2 separate regions of the Homo sapiens genome follow, and region 2 is linked to region 1. A link means that fine-mapping ties the variant in region 1 to the expression of a gene that starts in the linked region. Tissue or cell type: sun-exposed skin. Region 1 holds a variant in brackets; the other region holds the start of a gene. All regions are shown on one strand. Distances are from middle to middle.

What was found. PIP is the estimated chance that this variant, and not a neighbour inherited with it, causes the effect.
Region 2: it holds the start of MRPS2, and the variant in region 1 is fine-mapped to the expression of MRPS2 in sun-exposed skin (GTEx, PIP 0.95).

The regions. Positions count from the first base shown.
Region 1 is chr9:135,529,515-135,537,615 of GRCh38, forward strand. No RefSeq gene overlaps it. Among named protein-coding and RNA genes, the nearest start is that of LCN1, 12 kb to the left of the region's middle. The variant A/T (reference allele first, on the strand shown) is at 4,951.
Region 2 is chr9:135,497,035-135,505,135 of GRCh38, forward strand. It overlaps MRPS2 (mitochondrial ribosomal protein S2), which reads left to right and starts at 3,648. Exons shown (of 4, transcript NM_016034.5): 1 at 3,648-3,719; 2 at 3,964-4,089; 3 at 4,810-4,939; 4 at 6,508-7,637. The coding sequence starts at 3,677. The coding sequence ends at 7,099. PIERCE1 (piercer of microtubule wall 1) reads right to left here and starts at 2,835. Exons shown (of 3, transcript NM_001048265.2): 1 at 2,675-2,835; 2 at 1,551-1,629. The coding sequence starts at 2,817. It overlaps LOC101928525 (a long non-coding RNA gene), which reads right to left. Exons shown (of 3, transcript NR_121579.1): 2 at 7,202-7,285; 3 at 6,239-6,667. RefSeq lists silencers at 2,938-3,107, 3,378-3,547, 3,758-3,917, 7,149-7,303 and an enhancer at 3,873-4,497.

The DNA.
Region 1 (8,101 bases):
TATTGTCTCTCAGCTCTCTGAGTCTCTCTCTCTCTCTCTCTTTAAAGAGACAGGGTCTTGCTCTGTTGCCCAGGCCAGACTGCAGTGGCACAATCATAGCTCACTACAGCCTGGAGCTCCTGGGCTCGAGCTCTTTTTGTTTTCAATATTTGTTCTCTTTATTCATAGGGCTGGATTATTTCTATTTATGTATCTTCCTGTTGACAGAGGTGTCTCAAGTTTTCTCTTCGCTGTATCTGGTGAATTTTCCTTCCATATGTTGTGATCTTTAGTTTTAGAATATCCCTTTGATTGCTGTTTGCAGTCGCTGTTTCTCTGCTGCCTCCATGTTGGCTCCGAGTCAGTCCTCTTGAGAACGGTCACATTTTCCTTTCTTCATGTGTATAATAATTTTGGATTGTATCCTGAACAGTTTGAATGATGTATAAACTCTGGGTTTTGTTAGGTTTCTGCAAAGAGTGCTGGTTTTTGTTTTTGGTTTTTGGTTTTTGGTTTTTGTTTTTTTAGAAGGAGTTTCACTCTTGTCGCCCAAGCTGGAGTTCAGTGGCACGATCTCAGCTCACTGCAAGCTCCACCTCCCGGGCTCAAACGATTCTCCTGCCTCAGCCTCCCGAGTAGCTGGGATTACAGGCACCCACCACCAGGCCTGGCTAAATTTTGTATGTTTAGTAGAGACGGGGTTTTGCCATGTTGGCCAGGCTGGTCTCAAAGTCCTGACCTCAGGTGATGTGCCCACCTCGGCCTCCCAAAGTGCTGGGCCTCCCAAAGTGAGCCAACACGCCTGGCCTGGTTTTTGTTTTGAAGCAGGAAGTTATTTGACCTCCAGCTGTCAGCTCTGCCTCTTCTGTGGTGCACAGCAATTCAGTTCACATTTCAGTCAGTTCTTCTAGGCTTTGCTGGGCTGCTTCGTGTCTTTCCTGTGTGTTCATTTTTTAGGGGTTAGCCTGAGATTTGGACGGTTTCTGCCTAGAACTTGGGGCTCTCTCTTTGGCTCTCTTCTTTCTTGAATTTCTCTCTTCACTTTCCAGCAGCTATCATTGCCTAGGACTCTGTCCTCTGGTTCTTCAAGCCAGCAAAATTGCAAGGTGTCTACCAGAGCTTGATCTGCTCCATGTGGTGCAGACAGGGACTGCCCTCCAGATAAAAGCAGTGAGAATGGGAAACTCATCTAGTGCTGTCACCTTCTTCCAGGTGCTAACCGACCTGCAGTGTCTGTTTGCCCAGGGAGAGTGGTTTCTGCATTTTGTCCAGAGTTAATCATTGCTACTTGAGGGAGGCTTGGTCAGATGGGAGCTCCTAGACCACGATGGGAAGTGGAACTCACCATTTAGCAAAATGCACTTCACAATCCCAATAGGAGAGGGCACGCTTGAGCTAAGAAATGGCCTAAGTCACCGATGTCTCCCACTCTGCAGGTAGAGTCACTGGTTACTACCAATGCGGGAAAATGTATCCAGCTTATCTTGACTGGAAAAAGGTACCATCATGTGTTTAGAGTCACTATAAAGAGAACACAGGAGGTGAGGGTCTCAGGTGGGGTCTCCCTCGGCCCTGTGTAGAGCACACTCAGATTGCTCTGCCCTCCAATCTGGCTGTGCTGGGTTGAGGGCCACAACAGGGACATTACCAGCCTGCAATGCAATCTGCCTGGTGTGGGCTGGGCACGCTTCAGCATCCGGAGAAAACCTTCAAGCGAGGAGTCATGGGCCATGGGGCATGCGGCCGGGAGCTGCCTGTGTACACGAGGAGGATGCATCTGGGAGCACACCATTGGGGTCTCACATGACTGTCTGTCCCCCACCCCTCAAGCCGCACAGATACACACAGCCCCATGGGATCGTCACTGAAGCTTCATCGGCCATTGCATTTCTGGGATCCCTTCACCCTCTGGGTTGTTTGCCCAGTGGGAAAGCTGCACATTCATCTCCAAGGTGTCTGAGTCCTGGGTCAGCGCTCTCATCAGGCTCTGGTCACTGTAGTGGCTTTGTCATGGTCACCACTGGGCAGGGAGGCACCTGTGGGTGCTCCCCTGAATCTCCTGAATTTTAGACTCACTCCTCTCTGCTCATCCTAAGTAGCAGCCACTTCACCAGCTCACAATAATCAGGGTTAACTACCCACCAATATACACAATCAGGGTCAATTACCTGCCAACATACATAATCGGGGTTAATAATTACCCACCAATATACACAATCAGGATCAATTACCCACCAATGTACACATTCAGGGTTAATTACTTACCAATATGAATAATTAGGGTCAATAATTACCAACATATGCACAATCAGGGTCAATAATTACCCACTAAGATACATAATCAGGGTCAATTACCCACCAAGATACAGAATCAGGGTCAGTAATTACCCACCAAGATACAAAATCAGGGTCAATTACTCACCAAATATACATGATTAGGATCAATTATCCACCTATATATAATCAGGGTCAATAATTACCCACCAATATACATAATCAGGATCAATAATTATCCCCCACTATACATGTTCAGGGTCAATAATTACCCACCAATATACATAATCAGGATCAATAATTATCCCACACTATACATGTTCAGGGTCAATAATTACCCACCAATATACAAAATCAGTCAATTACTCACCAATCTACATAATCAAGGGCAATAATTACCCACCAATATACATAATTAGGGTCAATAATTACCCACCAATATACATAATCAGGGTCAATTACCCACCAAGATACATAATCAGGGTCAATAACCCACCAATATACATAATCAGGGTCAACAATTACCCACCAATAAACATAATCAGAGTCAATAATTACCCACCAATATACATAATCAGGGTCAATTACCCACCAAGATACATATTTAGGGTCAATTACCCACCAAGATACATAATTAGGGTCAATTACCCACCGAGATACATAATCAGGTTCAATAATTACCTGACAATATACATAATTAGGGACAATAATTACCCACCAATATACATAATCAGGGTCAATTACTCACCAATAAACATAATCGGGGTTAATAACTACTCACCAATATACATAATTAGGGTCAATTACCCACCAAGATACACAATCAGGGTCAATAATTACCCAATAATATATATAATTGAGGTCAATTTCCCACCAATGTACATGCTCAGGGTCAATAATTACCCACCAATATACATAATCAGGGTCAGTTTCCCATCAATATGCATAATTAGGCTCAATAATTACCCACCAAGATACATAATCAGGGAAAATTACCCACCTATATACATAATCAGGGTCAATTACCCAACAATATACAGAATCAGGGTCAATAATTACCCACCAATATACAAAATCATGGTCAATTTCCCACCAAGATACATAATCAGGGTCAATTTCCTACCAATATGCATGCTCAGGGTCAATAATTACCCACCAATATATATAATCAGGGTCAATTTCCCATCAATATACATAATTAGGCTCAATAATGACCCACCAAGATACATAATCAGGGTCAATTACCCACCTATATACACAGTCAGGGTCAATTACCCACCGATGTACATAATCAGGGTCAATTTCCCACCAGTATACATTATCGGAGTCAACCACTCACCAATATACATAACAGGGTCGATCATTACCTACCAATACACATAATCAGGGTCAACTACCCACCAATATACATAATCAGTATAAAATACCCACTAGTATACAGTAACTCCGTTCTTTACCCGCTCATCTGCAGGCATGAGGATCCCAGTGTGGCCTGGTGGAGCCAACACAGCAGGTTTTCTGGAGCATTCACTGTGCTTCCTGGTAGCAGAGCTTTCCCTCTTGGTAACCTAAAGCTCTAATCTCACATAAGCTAAGGCTGCAGGGGTGGCAGCTTTATATGGTTATAGCTTTAAATGGTTATAGCTTTAAATGGTTCTAGTAGGAAAAATAAATGCTTAAGTCAATGGCCCAAGCCTCCACCTTAAGAAGAAATGATCAAATTGTGCCTAAAGAAAGTAGAAGAAAGGAAATAATAAAGAGAAGAAATTGACAATGGGGAAGCAGATGGGGTGGGTGAGTGTGCACCCCCACATTCTGATTCCTTGGCCATTGGGGTTCTATGCCAGCTATGGGTTTGTTGCCCCTCAGTTTCAAATTTGCTCTTAATTATCCTGCGTGTGACTGGAGCTAAACCCTGTCGACGTTTCTCCTTCGTAACTGGTGCACTGTTGGGCCTTGTTAACAGAGGGCACGGGGGTCGCTGGAGGAAGGGGCTTCCCTTTGGATTCAGGGGTCTTCTTCATTCTCTGTCCTGAGGGGCTTGGCTGGCAAGCTGGATGCCAGGTGGAGCTCAGCCCCAGTGAAGTCAGCAGTAGCCCCGTGGGTGGCTTTTGGTGAGTTCTTGGATACCCAAAGTCAGCAAACTTCTGTGCCATCCCCGGGGCCGCAGACACACCCTCTCCAGGGAGGCCTGAGCGCCTTCCAGGTTGTTCCTACCCCGGTGCGCAGCCTCGGCCCTGGGGTAGAGCTGGCTCCCATTTCTGTTATTTCTGTGGTTTTAGAGTCCTCTTTCCCCATTGGTAACCCCTCTCCTGTTACCAGTTGGGGATTCTTTACAGGAATTTGCTCTTCAAATGACTGCGTGACCTGTCTCTGACACCCTTTCTGTGTGAACCACGGCCTTTACTTTCTGAATTTGGACACTTTGACATCTGGAGCCTTGCTAACCCTGGAGGAAGTGCTTCTCCTGGAGTTGGCTAATTTCTAGAAATAGCAGATGACTTGCCTGTAAGTGTGCCTTCCATATGCAAACCGGTAACCAGTCAAGAGCCCACACCCTCCCCAGGGCAGGTACCATCTGTAAGTGTGCTTCCATATGCAAACCAACCAGTCCAGAGCCCACACCCTCCCCAGGGCAGGGACCAGACAGCTAGGGACAGCCAGCCCCCACACCCCAGGGCCCGGGACATTATTGAA[A/T]CCAGCCCGCCCTGAGCCTGTTTACCCTGCTTCCTCTGTTCCTTCCCGTGGGAAACGTGGGAACCGCAGTGCAGGCTCCGCCCGCACTCTCCTCCTGCTCCCAGTGCCTCCAGACAGGCTCTGGTGCTTCTGTGAGGCCCCGCCCCTCCTGTTTCTAGGGGCCTAAGTGTAATAAGCCTCCGTCCCACAGTCATTCCTATGGCTGTGTCTCCCCCACCAGCCTAAAGCAAACCCTGGGAACCCTTCAAACACCTGCAGTGCAGAGTCCTTTCTCCATGTTATGTGGGGCCGCTCTGGTGTCCCAGCCCCTGTGAATGAGGTCACGACGCCAGCTCAGCCAGTCCTGGAAGCCATCTGAGAGCTGCTCTCCTGCTCAAGCCAATGTGTGAAATACGGCATTTTGGATACATCATCACCAGTGAGCCAAGCTGGACGCTAGTTAAAGCGGTGAGGACAGGTTTTATTCAGCAGCTTCTCAGAGCCAGGGACAGACTGGTTCCATGCCACTTTGTGCAGGGGAGAAGGGGTGTTCTGAAGGGAGAGTGGTTGGGGGTGCGGGAGGGAGTGGGGGCTCCAGTGAAGAGTTACAGAGTGCTGGTCAGGGTCAGTGCAGTGGGGCCAGCTGTGTGGCAGTTATGGAAGGAGGACTCTGTCCCCCAACAGAGTCTGGAAGAAGGAGGCCCATTCTTCCTGAAGGTCACATTTCTAAGGAATGGCTCTCAGGTCCTTGAGAAAGATTTCTTTTCTTTTTTCTCTCTTTTTTTTTTTTTAGACAGAGTCTTGCTCTGTCACCCAGGCTGGAGTGCAGTGGTGCGATCTCGGCTCACTGCAACCTCATCCACCTCCCAGGTTCAAGCAATTCTCCTGCCCCAGCCTCGCAAGTAGCTGAGATTACAGGCACCTGCCACCACACCTGGCTAATTTTTGTATTTTTAATAGAGATGGGGGGGGGGGTTTCACCATGTTGGCCAGGCTGGTCTCAAACTCCCGACCTCAAGGGATCCACCCACCTTGGCCTCCCAAAGTGCTGGGATTACGGATGTGAGCCACCATACCCAGCCTGAGAAAGAGTTCTGCGTTGTAGGAGAAATAGACTTCTCAAAGGGGCAGAGGAAGGAGTCACAGGTGTAAGCCCTTTTTAGCAAAAGCTCTAAGAAGGGGCAGCTGGGTGCTGGCCAGGACACACAGCAAATTCACCTGCAGTGCCGAGCTCTCAGGCAAGCATTTAGGGGGCTGGGGCCACCCCAGGGATGCGCCTCCTGCTGTTGGATGCCATGAGAGCTTGGCGATCTCCTGTCTCCTGGTGCAGGGGCTTGGGTGGAGCCGATCCATGCTGAGAGCTCTGCCGTGCTCAGTACATACGCACTGACACACTCAGCACATACGCACTGACACACTCAGCTTGGGTCCACATCGGAGCGCGGTTCTCCTGGTGTAAAGCCCCTAGAATCCATCCCGACACAACTGCCTCGGGGTAAGATGTCTGAGAAAGGGAAGTCTCATCTCCTCACGCAAAGGAGGAGGGGATGATTCTGCCCAGGCAGGTTCAGGGGGATTGGGGAGGGGAGGAGGGGGTGATTCTGCCCCGGCAGGTTCAGGGGGATTGGGGAGGGGATCAAGATTCTCACTTCCATCTGAGATCACATAAATGTCCCAGTTCTGTGTGTCATGGTCCCACTCCTTAAGCAGTGACCCAACTTTCACATAAAACACTTGGCGACTTTTGAATCCAACTCACCATGCAACCCACACTATTAAATGTGGAGTCTGATTTTCAGCCATTTCTGCTCTGTGGCTGCAAGAATGAAATATTATTCTATGGTCAGGATGGAATGTCTCCAGTGTCTTGCCTGTTACTCAAGCTCAGACCTTGGCATTTCCTTTCTGAAAGCCCCAGATCAGTCAGGCAGCCCCCGCCCCCTTCTCCTTGCAGTCATGATTACCACGTTTGTGGCCAAGCACAGCAGCCAGTTGGCTTCCCAAAGCCTTGGTTCCAGTGGGTGCCACGTCCCAATGAGCAACCACAGCAAACAATTTAGGGAATTGTGGTGTCACTTCATGCCGTGCCCATGAGTATCCCATTTTCCATCGACGAGATGCCCTCCCTGCATCTGTGCACACCCAAGAAATCTGCACACGCGCCTGTAGACATGAGAAAGCCCTGTGGTTGACAAGGGTGGGAAGAACGACTCCAAAGTTCCACTGAGTGAGGGGGAGAAGTCAAATAATTCCAAGTGCTTTCCCTCCTTGAGCTGCAGGAGAAAACCGTGAAGAAATGCATCCTCTGGTTGTGAGGCTGGGACTGGGAACAGATATTCACGCTCCCCTTCAGCCGACGGTGCATGGGGTCTTAGAACGCTTTCATTTGTTGGTCAAAAAACCCACAACCACAACCGAGCATGCAGGTTTTGCTGAGAGAACTTCAGATGCTTCATTCCAGCTCTTCTTTTCAGTATGTTTCACGGGGCTAAAACGAAGGTTGGCAGGGCTGGTTCCTTCTGGAGGCTCTTGGGGAGGAATCTGTCCCTGCCATTTCCAGCTTCCAGAGGCCTCCACATGCCTTGGCTTGTGGCCCCTCCTCCACCTTCAAAGCCAGCAGCACAGCCTCTTCTACTTCTGTTCATAAATATTCTCTCTCCCCACCCTTCTCTCTCTCCCTCCCTCGCTCCCCAGCCTCTCTCCTATAAGGGCCCCTGTGATAACAGTGGGCCCACCCAGATAATCCAGGCTAATTGCTCATCTCAGATCCTTCCTGAATTATATCTGCAAAGTCCCTTTTACCATACACACATCCATAGGGCCAGGGATGAGGATGTGGACATCTTTAGGGGACCATTATTCTGTCTACCACATACACACATCCACAGGGCCAGGGATGAGGATGTGGACATCTTCAGGGGACCATTATTCAGTCTACCACATACACACATCCACAGGGCCAGGGCTGAGGATGTGGACATCTTCAGGGAACCATTATTCAGTCTGCCCATGGGGGGAATTGGCAATCAATAGGACTGCAAGGAAATGAACAGGGTGTCTCCGGGGAGTGATGTGTCGTAATGGAGCGCAGCTCAGGGAAGTGACAGGGAGAGTAGGGGCTGCATCTTCCATTGTGTAGCCTGGAGAGGCTTCTCTGGGGAGGTGGTTTTTA
Region 2 (8,101 bases), 32 kb before region 1:
GATCCACCCGCCTCGGCCTCCCAAAGTGCTGGGATTACAGGCGTGAGCCACCACGCCCAGCCTTTCAGTGCACTTTTTAATGCAAAGCATTTATCTTCTATTCCCACATGGGAGGTAAACAGCTTCTCCGGCATCCACCCTTGGTCACGAAACTGGAAAAGAGACTCCAGACGGAGCAGGTGGATAAGAAGGAGGAGAACCTCCTTGGAAACTTGTCAGTAGTACCTCATGCCTCCTACCCCACTGCCTGCTCCCATCAGTGACCTGAAGGCTCCTACCATTTACAATAGGAACATTTTTTCATGGCCTTTTATAAAACCTAAAACATCTGGACCCATGTTAGTGAGTGTGCTGGGTTTTTTTTTCTTTTTTTTTTGGTTTTTGTTTGTTTGCTTGTTTGTTTTGGTAACAGGGTCTGGCTCTCACCCAGGGTGGAATGCAATGGCATGATCAAGGCTGACTGCAGCCTCAACCTCCTGGGCTCAAGCAATCCTCCACCCTCAGCCTCCTGAATAGCTGGGACTACAGGTGCATGCCACCACACCCAGCTAATTATTTTATTTTATTTTTACAGGGATGGGGGTCTCATTACGTTGCCCAGGCTGGTCTTGATCTCTGAGCCTCAAGTGATCCTCTCACCTCAGCCTCCCAAAGTGCTGGGATTACAGGCGTGAGCCACCGCATCCAGCTGTGTCTGGTCTTTTTCATAGAAATACCTGATCCCCAGGGAAAACTCAGGGTCGTCTGATTACGGGAGAGTGATTCTCAAATGCTCCAGCATTTTTAGATAAGTAATCTTCTCACAAGGGCTCAGTCACTCACGCCACACAACTAAATAAGCACTCACCAGACCTTTTCAGTGATGAATGCTTTGACAACGAAAATACGTCCACAACATTCTCACCCCAGAATGGCTGGCCCAGTGTCCCAGGTGTGCAGGAGACACCGCACTAGTCCCTCTGTCCATTCACCTGGACCTTCATGGGGTTTGGTGTGGGGAGGTTCTAGGAGGGCCATCCTGGAGCCTAAGGTCAAGCTCAAAAAGGGTTTGGCTTCCCCAATGGCCCACAGACTCCTGTGCCCACCAATACAACTTGCCCACCCACAAGCTGTGCCGTCAGCCAGTACTGCCTCTTCAGGTTACACGTTAACATCTCATAAAGTACAATTCCAAAAAAAAAGTAGCCCTTCATTTATTTGCCTCAGAACTGAGCACCGTAAGTTGCAGGAGATGGTTGCGTGTGTGTGTGTGAGACTGCTGTGCGTGTGGTTGGGTGTATGGGGGCAGGGTGATGTCAGCAAGTCTATATCCTCCTCTTTTAAAACACTCCACTCCCAAATTCATTCACTCATTTAGTTCCATCCTACCCTCTCCCAAAGCGATTTTGGGAACCTCCCTCCTCCCCATTTGTGATGCTGGAACTTTGGCCTCCTCCCTGGGTGCACCCCTCCCCGTCTCATTGTTGACCTGTTGAGAACCCCAGGTTTTTAGCCTCTTCTTGAGGCCACCCACCCCCTGCCCCCCATGCCCGGTCTTGCATCCCACTTACAGGCATCTCGTGCACGGTGGGGGCTCTGCTCCCGTAAGCCTGGTTACTGGTCCTGTACACGGAGACAGCCTTCTGGGTCCTGGTAGATGAGAAACACTCTATTTTCATTCATTTACTCTAATTCTGCACAAGCCACAGCCTTGTATTTGGTTGACGGCACTCCCCTGGAAATGCCCCCATGGAAAGAGCAATATGCCCGGGCTGGTGATGTGGCCTCGAAGGCAGCCTCTGGGAGTACCTGGCTGATGACCGTTCTGAATGGCCCGGCCTCCCCGGCCCCCTCTGCTTGCCACTGTCCCTGCTCTTCCAAGGCAGGCCAAAGCCCTAAAGAGCAGGCAGCCAGCAAGTGCTGATCCCCAGCCCTGGCAGGGCCTCGGCACATGCTGCAATTTCTGGGTAACCTAGCTTGTCAGGAGCGGAGGCTTGGCCTCCAGACCCTGCCACCCAGAGGGTCCCTCTGCCTCTGAGCCCCCACCCTCACTGAGGCTATGCTTCTACTGGTACCACTGCCCCTACCTGTCAGTAGGACAGGCTACTGAGAGGCTGCAGGCCCACGACATAGCTTTACTTTATACTCCTAGATCTTGGCCAAGTTGTTCCTTCTACATCCCAGTCATCTCAATGCGAGAATGAGGATACTAACAGACCCTGCCCTAGAGGACTGTTGAGGGACCAAATGTGTGATGAGCACGGCAAGATGTTTGCACCTGCCTACAGGAATTGAGTTTCTTACTACTTCTTAGCCTGCAATGCCCTGTGGCAGCTCAGAGCTGGCTGAGTCTACAGCAAGACAGTGGAGGTGCTGCTGTGCTCACGCCCCGCAGCGGAGTTTCAGGGTAGAGAGGAGAGGAGACTCACCCGACACAAATCAGTGGAGCTGAGACCACAACTGGGCTTTCTCCCCCCACGGCCCTGCCCCCCACTGCCCTTATCCCCACTTCCTTGTATGAGGCTCTAGGGAGCACGGTCGCCGCTCACTGGCGGGCGATGACAGCGCGGGCCCCGGATGACCACTCGATCTTCTTGATTTCTGTAGCTAGGACCTTGGGGGTCTTGCGGGGTCTCTCACACACGGGGCTATCGAGCAGTGGACGCCAGGACCAGGCGGGCCCCAGCTTCCTCACCTGTAGCCCCGGAACCACCCCGGGTTGTTGAACCTGCCCGGCAGGTCCGCGCTCACGCGGTAGTAGTCGCTGGTCCTCTCCGGCGGGGCCGTGGCCTTGGGCGCCACAGGCTCCGCGCACGCTCTGGGGCATTCCTCAGCCATTGTGCCTGGAGGAGAAGCGGGACTCGGCGGCGTCCTGTTGCCAAGCGACGGCCAGGTCACGTGACTGGGGAGCGAGCGGAGGGGCCTTAAAGGCGCCGCGCGTGGGCCGGGTTCCTCTGCGGGTGGGTCCGGAACCTGCCGGGCGACTCCCCAAGGGCCGGGAAGGTCGGGACGGCGAGAGATTCCCTGCTGGGACCGTCGTGTGAGGCAGCCCCAGGCCCCCAGCCACCCGCGGGGGGACCGGGCCACCCCAGCATCAGGGCGTGGACTCCCGGGCGAAAGAAACCCCAGGGCCTGGGACCCCGCCAGCCGGGTGACGGGGTTTAAGCACTGCAGGTCCACTCGGCAGGCAACGATTGGACTTTTGCTGTCCAATGTACTCCAGGGATGCTATGCCCCCCAGCACCCCGAGTCTAAATTGAGACCCGAGATCTGGCTAACTTTATGAAATTCTCCTAAGCCAAATATCGTTTAAATATTACAAACAGTTTTGGAGAGCGAGAGGTTGCGCAGGACGTGGTTCACAGCTCACTTGGCGGGAGGCGAGGGTCCCCATCGCCCAGCGGGCTTCCCCAAGGGTCAGGGGCCTCCCGGGCTGGCCGGTCCCATTAGCAGGGCGGGGCGAGCTGCAGGGCGAGGACCGTGGCTCCACTCCCCGCCCGAGACTCTCAAGCCCAGGACCCCGGGCCCTGACCCCTCGCGTGCCCCGCCCCCGCAGGGAGGTCCCAGCCGCCTGGGGACAGCGCTGTGGCTCCTCCGGGCCTGTAGGCGGCACTGCGGCCCCGCGCGGATGGCGACGGAAGGGGAGGCCGCTCGGCCTGGCCTGGAGGGAGACCTCGCTCTGCCCCGCGTCCCAGCCATGGCGACATCCTCGGCCGCGCTGCCCCGAATACTCGGCGCGGGTGAGCGCGCGCTTGCGGGACCCTGGGGAGGAGCATGCGAGGAGGATGCGGAGGGGCGCGGGGACCCGATGGAGCGGCGGGGACGTGGAGGGGACCCGGGGCGAGCGCGGAGGGGACTCGGGGAGGGCGCGGGGACGCGGAGGGGACCCGTTAGGGACGCGGAGGGGCCCGTTGGGGATGCGGTGGGGAGCGGGCGTGGTGCATTCGGGACTCGGCGCCAGGACCTCTATCTACTTCCCCCCAGGTGCCCGGGCCCCGTCGCGCTGGTTGGGCTTTCTCGGGAAGGCGACCCCCCGGCCTGCTCGGCCGAGCCGCAGGACGCTTGGAAGCGCGACGGCCCTTATGATCCGCGAGTCGGAGGACAGCACCGGTAACACTGGGCGCCCAGCCGAGTTGGGTGGGAACGAGGAGAGGCCGGCAGCCGCGGGGGATGCGAACCCTAGAGGGGCCTGGGCGCTGCACGCGGTCGAAACTGCGCGCTCCGCTGGGCTCCTCCCACTCCCGTGCTCGCCGCCGCTCGGTCCTGCCTGACGTAGCACAGCGGGCTGAGGCCACCGCCTCACCATGGATAGGGTGAGAGGGAGCGGGCGGGCCAGTGGTTAGCACAGGCTTCGCTCCCTAGGGGGGTGTCACTGGACCACCGAGGCCCGGAGCCCCGAGCTCGCCCAGGCGGGCCCAAGTGACCTGGGGGCACTGGGCTTGGAGTCTGCCCACCTTGCTGGACTCCTGATGGGGACTTTCTGGCTGGCCACCTGAGACCACAAGGCGGGGAGGTGCCAGAAAGACCTGAGCAACCCGCTGGGCCCCTCTCTTTTTCTCCTCTGTCTTCCAAGTAAGACCAAGGGACGGGGTTGACCAGGTTCGACCAGGCTTACCCAGGAGCAAGGTCGGGATCAGAACCTGGCTCCAGCCCTCTGTTTCCTGAAAAGGTCCCTGTGCTTCCAGGTCTTTCCTGGGGCTGCTGGGCTCCCGGCTCCCCACCTCGGTGTCACAGAAGGCACTTGGGAGCAGGGGTGGGCGGGAACTGCGCTCTGCCTGTCTCTGCTGCCACCGGTGGGAGACGCAGCGTCGCTCCTCCTCCCTGCCGTAGATTTCAACGACAAGATTTTGAATGAGCCCCTCAAGCACTCTGACTTCTTCAATGTCAAGGAACTGTTTTCCGTGAGAAGCCTCTTCGATGCCCGAGTCCATCTGGGACACAAAGCTGGCTGTCGGCACAGGTAGGTGACACCCCCATCTGAGCCCGGGGCGGTTCCCAGGAGGAACCTGGGACCTGCTCTGGTTCTAGGGCCACTTTTGAACTGGCCTATGTCAGTTTTAGGTGATTACAGCCCCATCCTCCTCCACATGGGAATACAGAGCCCCACAGAGAAGCAGGAGTTTATTCCTCAGCTTGGCGGACGCTCTTGTGTGCCTTGGTGTGGCGCTCACAGCCCTTGATAGGGCAGGCCTGCTGGGGGTTGCAGGACTCCACGGGTTCAGAAATGGAAAGGCTGAGGGCAGAACCTGTAAGGTTGGTCCCCCCGGATCGGGCTGGGCCTTCTGGGCTGCGGGGAGGAGGAATGACTGGTCCTGTATTCTCACATGGTCATTTTGACTGCTGTGGGGGGAGGGGATGGGAGGGGCAGGTGGGAGGCCAGGGAGGAGGTTGGTGTGGGCGTTCAGGGTGAAGGTGGCGGGGCTTAAATCGCAGTAGCGGAAGAGCTGGAGCAGCAGGTGGACATGAGGCAGCAGGGCAGAGCCAGTGGGCCTTGGGCTGGGGTGGGAGGTGGCTGGGGCCGAAGGGATCAAACACCTGCTCTTCGGGTGGAGCCTGGTACTGGTTACTGAGATGGTGAAAACCAGGGGAGACCTGGGGGACATCACAAGCTTGGTTCCTACCAGGTATGAACCCTTTGCTGCCCCAGTGGAGAGGTCACACGGTTACCAGGAGGGATGGGCCTGGGCCCAGGGAGCCATCAGCATCGGGGGCTGGCAGGTGTTTCCAGAGCATCGGAAAAGGAGGTCCAAGGTGGAGCCCTGGGTGCTCCAGTGTTTGGAGTCAGTGAAGAGGGACAGCCGGGGGTAGGGGAGATGTGGTTCTCTGTTGATGCTGCTGAGAAGTGAATTCAAGGCTGTGACCTTGGCAAGATGGAGGTCGCCAGTGCCTTGATGGGCAGGGTTGCTTGAGAGGAAGGGACAGAACCCAGTGGGAGTAGACTGGAGGTGAGGACCTGGGAACCGCAAATGTGGATGACTCGCCTGTCACGCACCGAGAGGCGGGGGTGTCTCCCATGCCCCGCTTTTCTCAGCCCAGGCCAGCAGTGGTCCAGTGCTTTGGATCAGGGTTCCCCGCCCAGGCTTGGCCACTCCTGCCCTGATCCCTTAATGCTTTTGGCCCAGAGCACCCCGCTAAGTCCAACCCCAGAGGGGCCTCATCCGCAAAGCCTCGGGAAGAGGACAGTGACGGAGGCGGCTGCCCTGTGAGCTGCACGGGGCAGAATGTCCTTTTGGCGTCATGTTGGATGTCCACACATCCATATGGGGTCAGTTCTATTAGGATTCCTTCGGGAAGAGGTAGAGGGTAGGAGGGGTTAAGCCACGAGACGAGGCATGCAGAGGGGTGGCCTGGATGGGTCTGCACTGCTGTCCATGCACACGGGGAGCGTTGCAAATTGTGCTTCCCAGCCCATAGTGCCCCCACAGAGGAGCCCGGGAGTCCCTGGTGGGCGTCTGTGTTCCTGCAAGGAGCCAGTGGAGATGGCCCCGTGAACTCTCATCCCCCTTGCCTTGGTGGGGTCTCTGGCAGGTTTATGGAGCCGTACATCTTTGGGAGCCGCCTGGACCACGACATCATCGACCTGGAACAGACAGCCACGCACCTCCAGCTGGCCTTGAACTTCACCGCCCACATGGCCTACCGCAAGGGCATCATCTTGTTTATAAGCCGCAACCGGCAGTTCTCGTACCTGATTGAGAACATGGCCCGTGACTGTGGCGAGTACGCCCACACTCGCTACTTCAGGGGCGGCATGCTGACCAACGCGCGCCTCCTCTTTGGCCCCACGGTCCGCCTGCCGGACCTCATCATCTTCCTGCACACGCTCAACAACATCTTTGAGCCACACGTGGCCGTGAGAGACGCAGCCAAGATGAACATCCCCACAGTGGGCATCGTGGACACCAACTGCAACCCCTGCCTCATCACCTACCCTGTACCCGGCAATGACGACTCTCCGCTGGCTGTGCACCTCTACTGCAGGCTCTTCCAGACGGCCATCACCCGGGCCAAGGAGAAGCGGCAGCAGGTTGAGGCTCTCTATCGCCTGCAGGGCCAGAAGGAGCCCGGGGACCAGGGGCCAGCCCACCCTCCTGGGGCTGACATGAGCCATTCCCTGTGATGTTCACTCTCCTCCCAAAGCAAACCACAGCCAAGCCTGTCTGAGCTGGGAGTCCCCTTCCCCAGCCCTGGGTCAGCGGCATCCTCAGTCGTTGTTACTTACTCAGCTGATGTCACAGTGCAGACATCCACCGTTCCACCACAGAACCAGTGGCTGAGCGGACCAACGTTGCCATGTGCGTTTGCTCTGTGGGGAACAGAGCACAGAGGGTGAGCGACATGTGCAGAACGGCCCCTTGGCTGCAGTTAGGACCTCAGTGGCTGGTATGGCCAAGCTGCTAGAAGATGCTGCTGTCCCTGTGATCCCAGCAGCCCTCCCTTCACCGTGACCCCTGACCTTTGTCAGGAAGGTGCAGTTTTTCTTCTCAATCTAAATGCCTTTCAGGTGGGCCGCTTCCTTGGCTACCTGGTTCCAGGGGGCTGTTTTGTAATGAGATGCTGCTGGCAGGCCACTCAGAGGCTCCCAGCTGGGTTGGTGGGACAGCCAGGCCAGATGACCTGATTCCAGCAAAAATAAAACTCAGATTTGGGCAAAATGAGACTTGGAGTTTGGGGCTCTGTCTCGAGTGGGTTTGCTTTCATCCATGTGGTGTGGTTTTTCTTCAGGCACACACTGGGACCCCAGTGATGAGAGATGGGACGGGCACTGTGTGTGTGAGGCGCATGAATGAGGTCAGCAGAGGTGCCAGCTGCCACTAGAGGGCACCGTCTTCAGCAGTGGAGCTCGTGACAAGCCCACAGCCCGGCCAGCCTCATTCAGCAGAACAGGCTTGGTGTGGACCCAGTTTCAGGAAAGACGGGCACTTGCTGACAGGGACGCTTAACATCCCTCACCTGTGGGGATACAGCTGTGTTCCTGGAACAAGCTGCGGCCTCCTCCCAGCCCCATCCCGAGCTGCTTAGGACATAGGCCCCCCATGCACCTGACCACCCAAGGAGCCGTCTCTGGGCAGAGTCTGGGCAGCAGGGCCCTGTGGAGTCTGGTGCCCTGGGTAGGGTGAGG